2 separate regions of the Homo sapiens genome follow, and region 2 is linked to region 1. A link means that fine-mapping ties the variant in region 1 to the expression of a gene that starts in the linked region. Tissue or cell type: whole blood. Region 1 holds a variant in brackets; the other region holds the start of a gene. All regions are shown on one strand. Distances are between the middles of the regions.

The links. PIP is the estimated chance that this variant, and not a neighbour inherited with it, causes the effect.
Region 2: CCNG2 starts here. The variant in region 1 is fine-mapped to the expression of CCNG2 in whole blood (INTERVAL, PIP above 0.99).

What each region holds. Positions count from the first base shown.
Region 1 is chr4:77,342,590-77,350,505 of GRCh38, forward strand. It overlaps the pseudogene LOC100421142. Among named protein-coding and RNA genes, the nearest start is that of CCNG2, 190 kb to the left of the region's middle. RefSeq lists an enhancer at 1-896. The variant A/G (reference allele first, on the strand shown) is at 4,436.
Region 2 is chr4:77,153,344-77,159,801 of GRCh38, forward strand. It overlaps CCNG2 (cyclin G2), which reads left to right and starts at 3,864. Exons shown (of 8, transcript NM_004354.3): 1 at 3,864-4,163; 2 at 5,190-5,327; 3 at 6,024-6,161. The coding sequence starts at 5,190. LOC101928864 (a long non-coding RNA gene) reads right to left here and starts at 4,721. Exons shown (of 2, transcript XR_244659.5): 1 at 1,927-4,721; 2 at 1,411-1,633. RefSeq lists silencers at 1,011-1,080, 3,423-3,542, 3,963-4,032, 4,063-4,172.

The sequences.
Region 1 (7,916 bases):
CCCTCTGCTACAGCACAAGGCATGTTTGGACATGTCTGGGCAAGTTCAGAGCATAACAAGAGTGGGAGGGCTGCTTGCAGGCTAGAAACATAGTACAAGGAGGTGGGGCCTCTGAACCAAGGACAAGGACATCACACAATTAAACCCATTGAAGAAGAATTCACCATCTCTGGCATGGGCCTGCACCCTGACTAAGATACCCTTTCTTTGACAGGACCATGCAGAAAGACATGCAAAGCACACCAGATTGTCTACAGCTTAAGACCAACCTTATAAATCCTTTATCATTAATTATACATTTACAGAAAACATAAACAGTGATCCTTATTATCACTTTTACTGGTATGTGCAGGGAGAGAATCCAAAATCCAGCTGAGTAGTAAGAAATTTTTACCCTTTTGCTGCCAGCATATTAGGCTTCTGGGTTCCCTTCCCCTTAGTTCAACTTTAAGCCAAACATTTTAAGGTTTGGAGAATTAACTTTTCCCAAGTTGAAAGTACACAAAGAAAAGATGCAATTTTAAACCACAAGAGAAGGAAAAACACCATAGAAAGGAGTTCTACTAAGGGTTAAGAGGTAATACCTCTCTTCCTGTTGGGAATGGTGTTTCCCCTATTTCTTTGCCTTCCCTATTTTCTCTTTTCCCTTCTGGCCTACTATAGGAGACATATTGCTTATCTCCAAAATTTTCTTCTGCTTGCGGAACTGCCTATTTTAGCTAAAATGAGGGTTTGACTTTGCAGCAACATAACCTTCCCTCCATGTGAGATCAAATACCTGAGTTAAATTTTGGAAAGCTTCCATGTATCTAACAGGTTCATCAAAAGATCAGCCTTAGTTTCTCTTTACTTGCCTAAGGTCCTGCAATGAGAAGGGAACTTTAAGGAGCGCCAAATAAGGGAGACCCTTAGATGACTTCCCTGAAAGTTACTTTAATTTTGGGAACTATTTTCCCCGAGCCTGCCCGATATGGCCACAAAAGAAAATAAGCCACTTTTTCTTCAGAGTTTCAAGGTTGAAGGAGTCCCAGTGCTTCAACATATACTCCAGGGCATTTGTCAGAGTGGTGAGTATGGGAGCAAGCTCAAAATCTGTTCTATCATTCCAAGATGCTCTTCACCTCTATATTAAATCAAATAAATCAATGGGCGTCTGTTAGCCTAGTACATATGCTTAGCCTTGGCTGCTGTACTCAAGTCATGGATGTGAGGCTTGCTGGGGAGAACACGGAGAACCCCCTTTACCCATGGGGTATTGGGAATGTTGGCCATGTTTGAACTAGCTTATTTTCATGGGGGATCTTGCCATCACGCAAGGCTGGGAAAAGTCCTGAGGCAACTGAGAATTTCTGGCCAGGGCATGCCCAGGTGTGATTCAAAGGTCTCCGGACCGGATGTAGCCTCTGACAACCAATTCTGGGTGTTGGCAGAGAACCTCAACTATCCTGGTGCACAACTCTTCTCTCTCTATCTGCAGCCTCTTACTCTTTCTCTGCATGAAATGTGCAAGATTTTTACAGTCTAGAAGCAGAGTTTTCCCCTTTCCCTCCCGCAGTGAGGTTAGTTGCTACCACTTCTCTGGTAAGCACATTGTGTTTCTCAGCACAAGGCATGTTTGGATATGTCTGGGCAAGTCTCAGCCAATGCACCAAAATGGTACAGTTCCTATGAGTGGAGAACACCAGGTTCTTCATCTTGAGTTGAATTAGAAAAAATGACATGGACACACATGGAGTAGTTTTAAGGTGCAGGGAGTTTAATAGGCAAGAAAGAAGGGGTAAGGAAGAAGCTCCCCTGTACAGAGACAGAGGGAGGAGGCTCCAAAGCTGAGAGACAGAACCCTCAAGAAGTCTTCTATATATGTCACTTCAACTTAAAACTGCAAGTGTGAATATTTGGACTTAAAGAACATTTGGTTTGGGTCAGGTCCCCCTTTTACTTAACTGCCTAGTTACTTGCAGAGAGTCCATTTTTGAGACTTTTTTTAATCCCTCAGTAACCTAATCTATAAAATAGCAGCAAGAGAACATATGAGAAAGTACTTTGAATACAATAAGCTGCTTCTCAAAGGTACACATGCTTTTTATAGAATAACAGAAAATTACCTGGAGCAGTTTTCTGGCTTTCCTCAATGGGTTGGACATTCTGTTGACCCTGTGGTTAAACAATTAGGTACCAACATGAGACAAGACCCTATTACATGCTGGAAGGAAACCACTATAAAAGCCTAAGAACCTGAGCTTTCGTTTCAAAAAGCAAATTCTCCTAAGTCCTCTGTGTAACAGCTCTAGCTTACACTTTGGTCTCAAACCACCTTTCTCATACTACAGTATGTGGTAGTCTACATAATTGACACTCTAATGAAATTAGTGGTAAAAGGCACTAAGTTTCTTATGGTCAAATTTAAACCACACATGCAGACTCCACAAATACCAGAGGCATGCATGAAAGCTCTGAGTGGGTCAGGTAAAACAAAGGGAAGTAAATGTGTGACACATGGTCATGCAGCAATCTTGGTTAATGGCAGTTGAGAGAAAATCAAAGATGCTTCTTCCTTGGCAACCTTATTGAAAATGGGACTGCTTCCTTCCTTCATCACAAGCCTACTCCATATCCTGCTTTGTTTTCTTCATAATACTCACCTGTCTCTATTTGAATGCAAATTGTGGGAGGCCAGGGACTTACTGTTCAGTGCTGTATCCTAGGTGCCCAGGATCATGCTTGCCCAGCACTCTGTAGAGGTTGTGTATTGTTGGGATGTAGCAGTCAGGCAGTCGGGTGTGTTACCACTAAAAGTACCACATTTGTCATTGCTTAAAAAAGGGATTTCAGTGCTTTTGATTACTGACCCGGATTCCCTAGAAAGTTGATCCTGAAACTACTTCTGTGCTTCTGTGTATTGGGGAAAGGGGTAAACGGGACAGCAAGGGTGAGGGGATAAAGTGAGACAGGAAAAGAAGTTAGGTGACTTCAGCTGCTCACAGCTTTACCAGAAAAAAACACAACTGTTTATCGTGGCAGGCAAAATGAAACACTATTAAAACACTTTGTGAAGGGGGGTAGATCAAATCTTCCATTCTAGTAGTATACAGCTAAACTTCTTAGACTTGATGCCTTGATGTATATTAAGGCTACTAGATTAATAGAAGCTTATTTCTGAATTGAAACGATAAAATTGGTAATGACATTCTCAGGTAATCTTGTCTTGACTTTCAACTACACTAACTCTCATTGATTTCCAGTATCCCATGAATTTATGCTAAAAATGATATACTTAAAATGGAAGGGATAAGTTTGAATAGTACTATAAAAATCCAGGTTGACAATGTTATTTCTCTAGAAATACTACAAGTCACAAGTGTAAACCCTACCATCTTACTTATGCTCTCTGTTCTGCTTTTGTGCTTCAACTCTGCTTTCCCTGAGTTTATAAAAAGAGGGAAAGCAGAAGAGCTGCTACCAAATGGGATCATATTCTTTTTGATGTAGGACTTCTCACAGCTTTGGCTCTCGAAGTTATTGAGATGACGTTTGGGGTGTCAGGTGTCTATAAGAATTGACTGCCTGTGAAATGGAGGGGAAGGCAAGATTAGGGAGAAAAGTCAACTGATATGGGCTGGACCAAGTATTCACTAAGCTGGTGGGGAGTTCAAGAGCTAGTATTCCCCGTTTTCCTGAATCAGGCCATGATGGTTGGGCCCAAGAAGGAAGAACATTCTGCAGAGGCTTCAGGAAGAAGTTTTAAAGGTGGGAGTAGGTTACCCAAGTCAGAAGGATGTGAAAAGACTGAGAGGCTAGTATAGATAGAAGCCCTTATTAGATGTGAGTACAGTGGGAAGGCATAGGGTAAATAGTGCCAGGTAAAGTGTGTGTTGTGGGAAGGACTTCACCACCTAGGATACAGCTGCTGGAAGAAGTGAGGTGCTATGGCTATGAGGGAATGGGGGACTATTTACCCACCAACCTCTTAAATGCCTCCTGTTGTCCAACCCCACTGGAAACAAGAGGACAAAGGACCACATGTGATGCAGTTCATAAACAATTGGCACATCTGGGCATAGAGCAGGGCAAAGGAGGATGAAATGTTTATGAAGGAAGCAAGTAGAGAAAAACATCTGGGTTTCATGTTGGAGAGAGAACCAGTGGTGATAGACTAGAAGAGTCCTAAAGGAATATATAGGGTACAAGTCCGGGACGGAAGCAGTTTTTGGGAAGAATGGGTTAAGCTAAAGGGAAAATAGGCCTAGAAGCAGATGAACAGCAGAAAGTGTTCAGGAGCGGGAAGACCTGAGTGTTGGGGAACAGATGCTGAAGGCTGACACAGAGCAAAGATGCAGAGAGTCAGCTTCTATGTCAATGTTAAATACCTTAGAGGGTGGCTTGAGGGCCACAGTAGAGGATGTTTTCTAAGTATGGTTTTCACAACCAACACTAT[A/G]TTCATTTTTTCTTATGCATGAAAAAATACATCAGTTTAAAAAAAGTAGGAGGCTTAGCATGTCTTTGACTTCCCTGTCAGTACGTCTTAACACATACAACTTCTACTGTAACATAGAAGCATTTTTAGGCCTCTTACACTCCTCCAATTCTTATCTTAATGTTGAGGATAAGTGATTAAAGCACAGCAAATTACACAATATGAAGGTATTGCCAGAGTGTAGCAGGATAAGTGCAGACAAAATCCCTCAGATACCGGGTTAAAGAAGGAAGAGGCTTTATTTGGCTGGAAGTATCAGCAGACTTGTGTCTCCAGAACTGAGCTCCTCACCAAGCAGTTCCTGGCCCTTTTTAAGGGCTTACAACTCTAAGGGGTCCACGTGAAAGGGATTGAGCAAGCAAGGGGTACGTGACTTGTTGGGGTGGGGGGGCGGTGAGCAGGATCAATGCTTCTAGGAGAATGTTTCTCTATACTATGTCTGAAATCTATAGATAACGCATGTGGTTAGAGCAGAGGTTAATTTTTAACCCCAGGTCTGGCCAGTGGTGCCAGTCAGTCTTGCCACTGACTTCATCCCTGTTGCTTTTCAGCTTTTACTTCCTCCTCCTCTTGGGAGACAGGAGACAGTAAGAAATGGCTCTTCTCCTCACAGGGACACAGCAGAGAAGATAGCAGCTCATTGGCAGTCTCTGCTGCACAAGAGTGCAGTGGAATTTGCTGGTGTACACCCACAGGTTCAGTCTAGGGCACTTTTAATTTATGTAGTGGCTTTTCTTTAAAAAAAAAAAACCTCGCTAAATGCACAACAAATATGCAGATGGTGACTTCAGCAAGAAATAAAATCACTACTGAACAGAATGACTAATGACAAATTTGAATCTTTAGCTCTTTCAAAGATGCTGGAAAACATTAAGGAACACTAGCTTGCACCTTCTACTAGTCCAGGCAGTTCTTATAGGACCCTGTATGCTTTCTCCTTCCTGGGGTTTTAAGGTTTCCAGATACAGTAACATGTAGTTGATAGGCAGACAACTTCCCCTAGATAACTTATTAGGCCATTAAAAGTAATGACAAAAAACAACAATTACTTTTGCACCAATCTGGTGTTACACTAAGAACAGTTACCCTGATTATTCTCCATGGTTGTTGATAAACACCATTAAACCATTAAATTTATACAGAAAATGCATCTACATATTCCCCAGGTATAAAGAAAGATGGACCAGTAGAAAGAAAAGTACCATTCCAAGCATCTCAGTGGTAGGAAGATGGATATCTGGTATCTCCTCTCCCTTGACCAGTTGAGGGGGCTGTGTTGGGATCCTCCCTGGTCTCTCTGAATAGATAAAACTATATATACTCCATAGTATATATATTCCATAGTAGATGCATAGACTCTAGACAATTGATAACCCCCAGTGGGAACTGTTTCTCCTGAACTCAGGAGGAAGGGCCAACTTTGTTTTTTTTGTTTTTTTTTTTTTAGACACGTGTTTAGGCTAGATAGGTAAGACAAAGAACTCCCTAGATGAGCCAACACTAGGCAGGAAACCAGACCAGATGGTAAAATAACTAGTACCCAGGGTGAGAATACCAGAAGAAATTGTGAAAAATTAGAATAAATCATCTCCCATATTAGAGGAGCTGAAATGGGCAGCACAATTCAGGGGGCTCCAGGGTGCTTTTGTGCTACCTAGTGTACTGTTCTCAGGACACTTTGAAACTTGCAGTATGTTTGGCTCCTTCAGCTTTGCCTAGGCATTTAGTGCAGCTTGCATCCAGATGACTATTTTTTGGGTAAAGGCCTGTGTTTAAAAATCACTGGTGTCCAGGGGTTTCCATTTCTTGGTAATGAAGACCACTGCAGTGTGTTGGGGGTGGGGGTGGCTTTCAGTGTAGATCTGCCAGTCCCTCTTCAGGACACACTGAATCACCTATAACTTAGTGTAAGCCTGAGAGGAGTCTACACTGTGGAAGCCATAAGGAAGTATAAAGGCCTTGCTAGACAGTATGTAGCATCTAGAACAAAGAGTGGTAAAATTCAAGAGGCAGACAAGTGAACCAGACCATAAGTCTCTGGGGATGGCAAGTGGTGGGAAGGTAAACATGTGATAGACAAAGTCTAGTTAGTAAAGTCTATTTTACAAGCTCCTTTATTCTTATGGCTGATTAGAAACTCTCCTGTCATAGAGGTGGGGATTTGTTCCTTCTCCTTTGGATCCCAGTGCTGAACCATCTCGTGAGTTATTCTGCCTGAATTGAGAATCTCATTGTTGAGTGAATGTTGATTGACCTGATCTTTCCTGATGCTTTTTGTATGCATCCTTCAGTCATGTTTCTAGAATATCACCTGGTATTGGATTCCCCTATCTGTGATTCAGCATGGTTGAGCTGGTCTCTACATGATAAAATGCTGCAGAAGCAAGATGTAGGAATGCTATTTAATTTTGAAGCATCCAGATGTCGAGTTACTTTGGCATAAGGAAACCATTCAGATCCTACAGTCTTCAAGAGACTCTCATGCATTTCTAAACTTAAGTATTTCATCAGTTACTTCAGGGATAAGAATTTGCATGGCGTCAGTCTCTAAGGAAGTTCTTAATTGTGACCAGTGTTGTCACTTGTGTTTCACTTGCAACAAGATAATTTTGGACTATGAATGGTTGCCCAACATCTGTCCTTAGTCGAGAGTATTCTGATCAGGGTTCTATGGCACCAGTTATACACTGCTATCTTAGACATATGTGTAGCCACATCAAGATGTGGGTAATTAATATACATATCACTGATTTCTGCAGCAGACTTGAGTGGATTGAACCAGTCCTCAGAAGCTGAGTTGTCTCTTGAATCACAAAAGAGCAATGAAAATACTAATTGCAGGATGGTAAAGACCAAGTCGGTGAGTTGAATCATCAGTGACTGCAATTCTGCAGGACTCAGTTCCATAGCCTGTAGGGAGCCAAGTAACAGTGCCATCAGGTTTACTCATGAATTGGCACAGGAAAATGCTTCCAAAATGAGGGTATGACACTGCATACCATATTTATGTACATAGTCAGTGGTGAAAGCTGTCTCCTCAGATTGTTATATGGGATCAACAATTGCAGGCACATGCCCCTCTGTAGCAGGGGGAGTGGCATGGACAATTTGTAATGATTGGTAAACAGTTCAAGTACAATTGACCCTGCCACTTTCTCTGTAGCACAAATGATCAGCTTCTGAGCTCTTGACTATGTGAGCTTTCCTTGTATCTGCTTTATTGCCTTCCACTCACAATCATGTACTTTAGCTGAAGGACTTTCTGGGGTGGCATACTGTGGTCTTCTACATTGTGTTCAAACCAGGTTGCTTTTCCTTCCCTTTCATCTTCATTTCTCTTAGCAAATTCAGGGCATAACATAATCTTCTAGGTTTGGGAGTGGGAAAGGGCAGGCTGGTAACAAGAAGGGAAAAGCCCTTCTCCAGGGAGTGTTGGGCACCC
Region 2 (6,458 bases), 190 kb before region 1:
GATAATTTTTAAAATTTTTTGTAGAGATGAAGTCTCGCTATGTTGCCCAGGCTGGTCTTGAACTCCTGGGCTCAAGTGATCCTCCCACCTCAGCCTCCCAAAGTGCCGGGATTCCAGGTATGAACCACTGTGCTCAGCCTAATGACAGAAAACAGCCCAGGCAGGGACCCAGCAATAGTGAGTAGACGGGGAGGGGGAGTATGGCCTCATGTCAGCTTTACGTATCCTTATCCTCAGGTTCTTTCCTTTCAGGGCTGCTTTCCACCAGACTTCTTTGATGAGGTTAGGGATGATCCCTTCCTTTCCCTTCATGAAGTCACAACATGGTGCAGCCTAGAAATATATAGCTAGTTGCTTTCACAAATGTTTGTATTCAGTCATCACATATGAAGCAGACACAACTACCTCTGGCTTTTTGTTTTCCTCAGTTTAGAAAGCTGAGGCTCAAGACCATGGGAATTATTCAGGGTATTCAAGGCACCATTTCTAATGAGTAGGAAAGCTGAGACACAAAGCCAGTTTGATCCATGGCCAGTGCTTTTGCCCTACACCTCAGACATACCAGGGTATATGCTGGGGCCTTGTTTTATTTATGTATTTTTGTATTCCTGGTGCCTAGTAGCATGCCTGGCACTCAGTGTGTATTCACTAAATTTCGATTGAATAAAAAGCTAGGATTTATTGTCAAAAACCATATCTTTGAGGAGAAAGATGATATTTGGAAAATTGTAGCAATTTTGATGCCTTATGAAGTTCAGGGAAGTCTAAGTCATTTAGGGAAGCACTGCAACTGTCCCATGAGAGTGCCCTATTTTCAAGGTAGAAGCTTAAGTGTGAGCAGGTTTGCAGCACACTTGTCAGGAGTCAGGGATTCACTGAATGTAGTCAGTGTTTCTGTGTGGGCACTCCCTGCTTATTACCCATTCTGTGAGCACCTTTTAGTTTCAGTCTCACATGTCACTGAGGACAATGGGCTGCACATCAGGCTTTCATGGGGTTATTGGTGACAGTATCACCCAACCCCACTGCACCCCTACCACATGCTGTAGAAAACCAAGTATCTTAAATTGTCTGGAAGTTCTTGGGGGCTGCCAAGTTTCTGATTTCCTTATTTTGTATGTGTGCATGATACAGGAAATTTGCCTTCCAGAAAGCTCAGGAAAGGCTAATGGGTAAAGCCTGATTAGCCTAAGGGGAATAATGTCTTTTTCATAAATAACACTTTCAGCTCCGGCAAGGTAAGCCAATGTGATAAGGACAAATAGAATGAGGAGAATTTTTTTTTAAAAGATATATTAACAAACAAAAAATTCTGCAAAGTAAACAGAGAAAACCTACATAATCCCCCAGCCCATTTCCTAAGAATATCATCATTCTTAAAATGAGGTGTTTAAAAAAGAGGATGCTGTATTAATAATTACTGGATCTGTATTTTTAATGATTGCTTTCCTTTAATCTTAAAGAGATAAGTGGACTAACGTGGATAAAGGGCTCCATCTTGGACAACTTGATCAGTCTTTTCTTCTGTGCTGAGCAGGGCCTGCCAAGAGCAGGAAATTCAACGCCATTTACAAAGCTTTCTTGTCTTACTCTCAGAGAAAGCCATCACTGTTCACATCATTCAAGAGGCTGTCTGTAAAAGGACACATAAAATACCAGTTATGAAATATAGAGTACACATTTAGTATAGCTTCATATCATTTAGTGCTAAGCAGCAAGATGATTATGTCAAATAAAAGTTATCACTTATTTATGTTTAAAAGATCAGATAAGCATTGGATAAAATTATGTAGCCTAAGCAAAGGACAATTTCTAAATCTTTTCCTTTTTGTTTTATATAGTCTGTTATTTTTAAAGTCTTCTACCACATAAATTTGCATTTCCTCTTTCACATCACTTATAAAATAACGTATGTTCCTTTTTTACCTTTGCCTTCTTACTTGAAAAAAACATCCCCAGTCTCCTTCATGCTTTGATCACAAACTCTTCATTTCTCTGATGGTGGATAGTTGGTCGAGCTGCTTTCTGTCTGTGGGCCCTGTCCACTCAGCCTATTGATGCTCTGTACAATGAGCTGTCATCTCTGTAATTTTAATCTTAGCTCTAGTCTCTAAGTTAGTTTCATGCTCCTATTATGTTTATCAGCATAGATTTCCAGCAAGATGATTATGTCAAATAAAAGTTATCACTTAATGTTTAAAAGATAAAACAAGCATTGGATAAAATTATGTAGCCTGTAAATCATTTAAAACTGGTGTGCTAATTTTATCTTATTTTCCAAAACCCTCACCAAGCTCACACCTCTCTGAAATAAGTGTTAGCTTTTTGGGCTGCCTTCCCCCAGTTGCTCTGTGCTCCAAACAGATGCCTGTGTTTAGTCCGAGCTAATATGCAAAGGGACCTAGTTTTAAAATTCCTTAGCTGCTCCGCAAAGAAGAGCGCTGCCAAAGCTATGTTGTGTGCCTTCCCATATTTCACAAGTAACAAAATAATTCACAGAAAACACATAGAAGAACAGAAAGGAGAAATCTCTTCCCAGGGACTATCTGATTATGTAGATTAGAACTCACGAATATGGTATTTTCTAATTTAGGAGGGAGAGAGTAAACAAATAAATGTTCCAGGGCAGTCAACCACATGCCCCATTGATATTCCGTGTGAAAGTGTCTCTGGCCTAAGGCACCTGGTTTGTTTGCTTTTTGTCCCGTCCTGGGAGACGTGTCGCCTATAATAACAACGCTAATTATAATGAACAATAAATGATAATTTATGGGTTACCAAGGACCAAGAAGCTCTGGGAGTCTTCATTAAAACAACAGCACTACAACCTCTGGAGGTACGCCGTAATTATTAGATGTTTACGTACCCTCATCAGCGTGCTAAGTTTTTATTGAAAAGCCCCTCCTTCAGTCCCTCCTGAATTTTTTTAAATTATGGAAAAATTCCAAGACACAGAACTAGAAAGAATACTGTAATGCAGCCTCGAGTACCCATCACCCAGCTTCGACCCTCAACTTTTTGCCTATCTTATTTCACCTCTCTTCTCCATTTTTTTTTCTCTTGGACTGTAAAATTTTAAAGCAAATACCCAAACTTGTAGCATTTATTGAATATTTTAGTAAACGCCCCGACAATGTTATAATAATTTGGTGGGTTATTGCAAAATGGAACGCCAAGACAAAATAAAGAAGGAATGTAGAAAACTCTCCCGTGGCTGAAAAGGCTGTCACAAAGGTTAGCTGTTAGGAGAAGCGCCGCGAGCGTGACATTCCCCCAAGAAAGGCGGAGGCAGCCAGGCGAGAAGGCACAGCCCCGCAGGGCAGGTAACTGAATACCTTCTCCGCTGCACACCCAGGCATGCGCAATCCAGACCCTGGAGTTGCTAAGGCCCCAAGGCAGAGAGAGGCTCAGGCTACGGAGAAAGCCAATCAGAGGGCTCCAAGACTGATAAGTTAGCCAATCCAGATTCGAGGGTGAATCAGGTCCTCAGCATGCCCATCGCCCCACCCGCATCCAATCAGAGAGCCGGCTACTTTGGGCGGACTTTTCAAAACAGCGAAAACAAAACAAATCGGGGACCTTTAAAAGGCGTAATGAGACCAGAAACGATCTCCTTCCGCCCCTCTGTCTTCCCCCGTTCCCCAACGCAGATCAATCGCGGAATAAGCCCGACGCCCAGATTCCGCTCTCCGCCCTAGCGCCAGGCGGGAGGACTGGCTCGGCAAAGCCAAGGAGAGCTAGGGAGGCCGCGAGAGAGGCTCGAGACGGCAGCTTAGGGGCGGGACTCTTTTTTAAAGTCCGTGGAGGAAGTGCAGGATCCCTCCGCGGGGAGTCACGTGCCCCGCCCCCTTGGGGGCGTCGAAACTCTTAACAAAAACAAGGGGCTCGGGGAGGTTTCCGCTGAGGCGGCGGGGGTGCGGCGGTGGGCTGGTCTTCCGCGGCCGGCGTTGCGCCGCGGCGGAGGGTGGGCGCGCGGGGAGCGGGATGGAGCCGGGGCTGTGAGGCCGAGGCGGCGGTGCCTGGGAGGAAGGGTCGGATGCCGGACCGGGGGCACCGCTGAGGCGGTGGGTCCCCGACCTGCGAGACAGGTTTGGAAGCCCCCGCTGCGCCCAGTCCGTGCGGACCGCGAGGCCGCGGGCGGGTGGAGGCGCGTCTCCGGCACGGTGAGTGGACCCGCCCAGGGCCGCCGTGGGTTTCTTTGTTCGTGGTGGGGACTGTGGGCTTTGAGGAGGTTGGTACCATGCGAGTGCCTCGGTGCTGCCTGCTCCTCATCCGCTGGAGCGACCAGGGTGCTGCCCTCAGCCCCAGCCCCGGGGGGAGCTGGCGCCCGCGATGGACAGATAGATGCTCGTGGGGTGGAAGGAGGTTGCGACTAGGTTAAGGGCAGTCTCCGCCTCGGTGCCCCCCGCCCCCGCTCGTGTTGTCACGGGGACTTGCTGGCGTGGTGCTTCTCGAATTGACAGCCCCGGGGCTCTGCAGAGTTGTGGGGCCCCGGCATCAGTGGGTGGACGGGTGTTGTCCCTACGGGCGCGGGGCGGGCGGGCTGGACTGGACTTCTCTCCCCGGACCGTAGCCGGGTGTGCCGCGCCACCCCAGGGCTCCTGGGACGGGGGTATCCGCCTCTCGGGTAAGTCCGGAATCGGCGCTGCAGCAGCGGACGGGAAAAGCTGGGGGCGGGACTCTCCGAGAGGGGCTTCTGCAGCTGGGCGCCCCGGGCGGGCGGGGCTCGGGAGTCTCCTCCCTCCGCTTCTTTGTTCAGTCGCGAGACTCTCCCTCCCCTCCCCCCTATTGTGCAACACCCCATCCCCGGGACCCGCTGCAGTCGCTCGCCACACTGCAGTCCCCTGGGCAGAAGGCCCTCCCTGGCGCGACTTCAGGTGGGGCAGACCGAGGGGACGCCGGCGCCCGCGGACAGTTTCCTGTTTGTGAAACGCCAAGAGGCCAGGGCTGGCCGGTCTTACCCAGCGCTGGCCGGCGGACCTGACCACGGCTCCTCCCCCTGCCACACCTCCCTGGCCGTGGTGGGGATTGCCCTGGGGCTCTGGCGGACGTGACTGGTCCCTTCACCCGCTCCTTGTCGGGGTGTGCTGGGGCGACCCTTGCTGGAGGTACTGGCCTCAGCCCTTTCTCCCGCTTCCCCACCCCTCTTACCCCCAGATTACATTCTCTGTGTGGTGTCTTTACTGCAGATGAAGGATTTGGGGGCAGAGCACTTGGCAGGTCATGAAGGGGTCCAACTTCTCGGGTTGTTGAACGTCTACCTGGAACAAGAAGAGAGATTCCAACCTCGAGAAAAAGGGCTGAGTTTGATTGAGGCTACCCCGGAGGTAAGTTGGCAGAAAAGATAACTTGCTCAAGCAGCTGATGGGGCTTGGAGGAGGTAACCCCCCCGCCCCCGTTGAATCATGACTAAAGCCTGCAAAATTTCTTAAAAGTTGTTCTTTCTGGAGTACCAAGATAAACCTTATTACAGGTTAATGCTTTTGTTTCTTAGCAAGAATGAGAGTGATACTTTAGAGAAGTGGGGTTTTTTGTTGTTGTTTTTAATGTGGCACCCTCCTCGCTGCCCCCCATACTCCAGCCTGCAGCTTCAGGATGGGAGACCCCGGGTGAATTGAGTAGTTCATTTGTGCAAACACCCTCTGCCTGTGAAATACATATTTATAGTAGAATCTTAAATGACTTTAGAAAAGCAAACAAAAGAACCCTTTCTCTCCATTCCAAGGGAATTGAATTATATTTGCTATAACTCTCTGAAATCTTGCAACAGTTCACCTTATATTGAATTGCTGAAGCTCTTTTATGATGCGTATTTTTAAGAAGCAGTGATTTACGTCTTACAGATGATAAAGTGTATAGCTTTAGTTAAGCGATACCACTCTTTCCACCTATATTCTTGAAGATTGAGGGAAAAAAATTAACCTTATTCTTGGGAAAAAATTAACCTTATTCTTTGGACCTGTATGTGTTTTTCATCTGGTTCTAAGAAAATTGTAAACCTTGGTTCTTGGTTTTTATTGCAGAATGATAACACTTTGTGTCCAGGATTGAGAAATGCCAAAGTTGAAGATTTAAGGAGTTTAGCCAACTTTTTTGGATCTTGCACTGAAACTTTTGTCCTGGCTGTCAATATTTTGGACAGGTTCTTGGCTCTTATGAAGGTATTTCATCATTTTTATAAATATGTCTTCCTTTTTCTATGCCCAGTGCCTAGCACACAGGGTTCAAGAAATATTTATCGAATGGGTATAATAACGTCCACTGTACATAAAAATTTATAATCAGAATTGTGATCGTTAGTGCCAGAATAAGACTACAAGATTAATTGTATTGTTGTATCTTAGGTTTTTCTGTTGTGTCTTAGGTTTTACCTCTTAAGTACTTTCTCTTGAATATGTGACAAAAGAGAGACTACTATTTTTTAGGTATTTGCCATATATTTATAGTCCTCAATATAA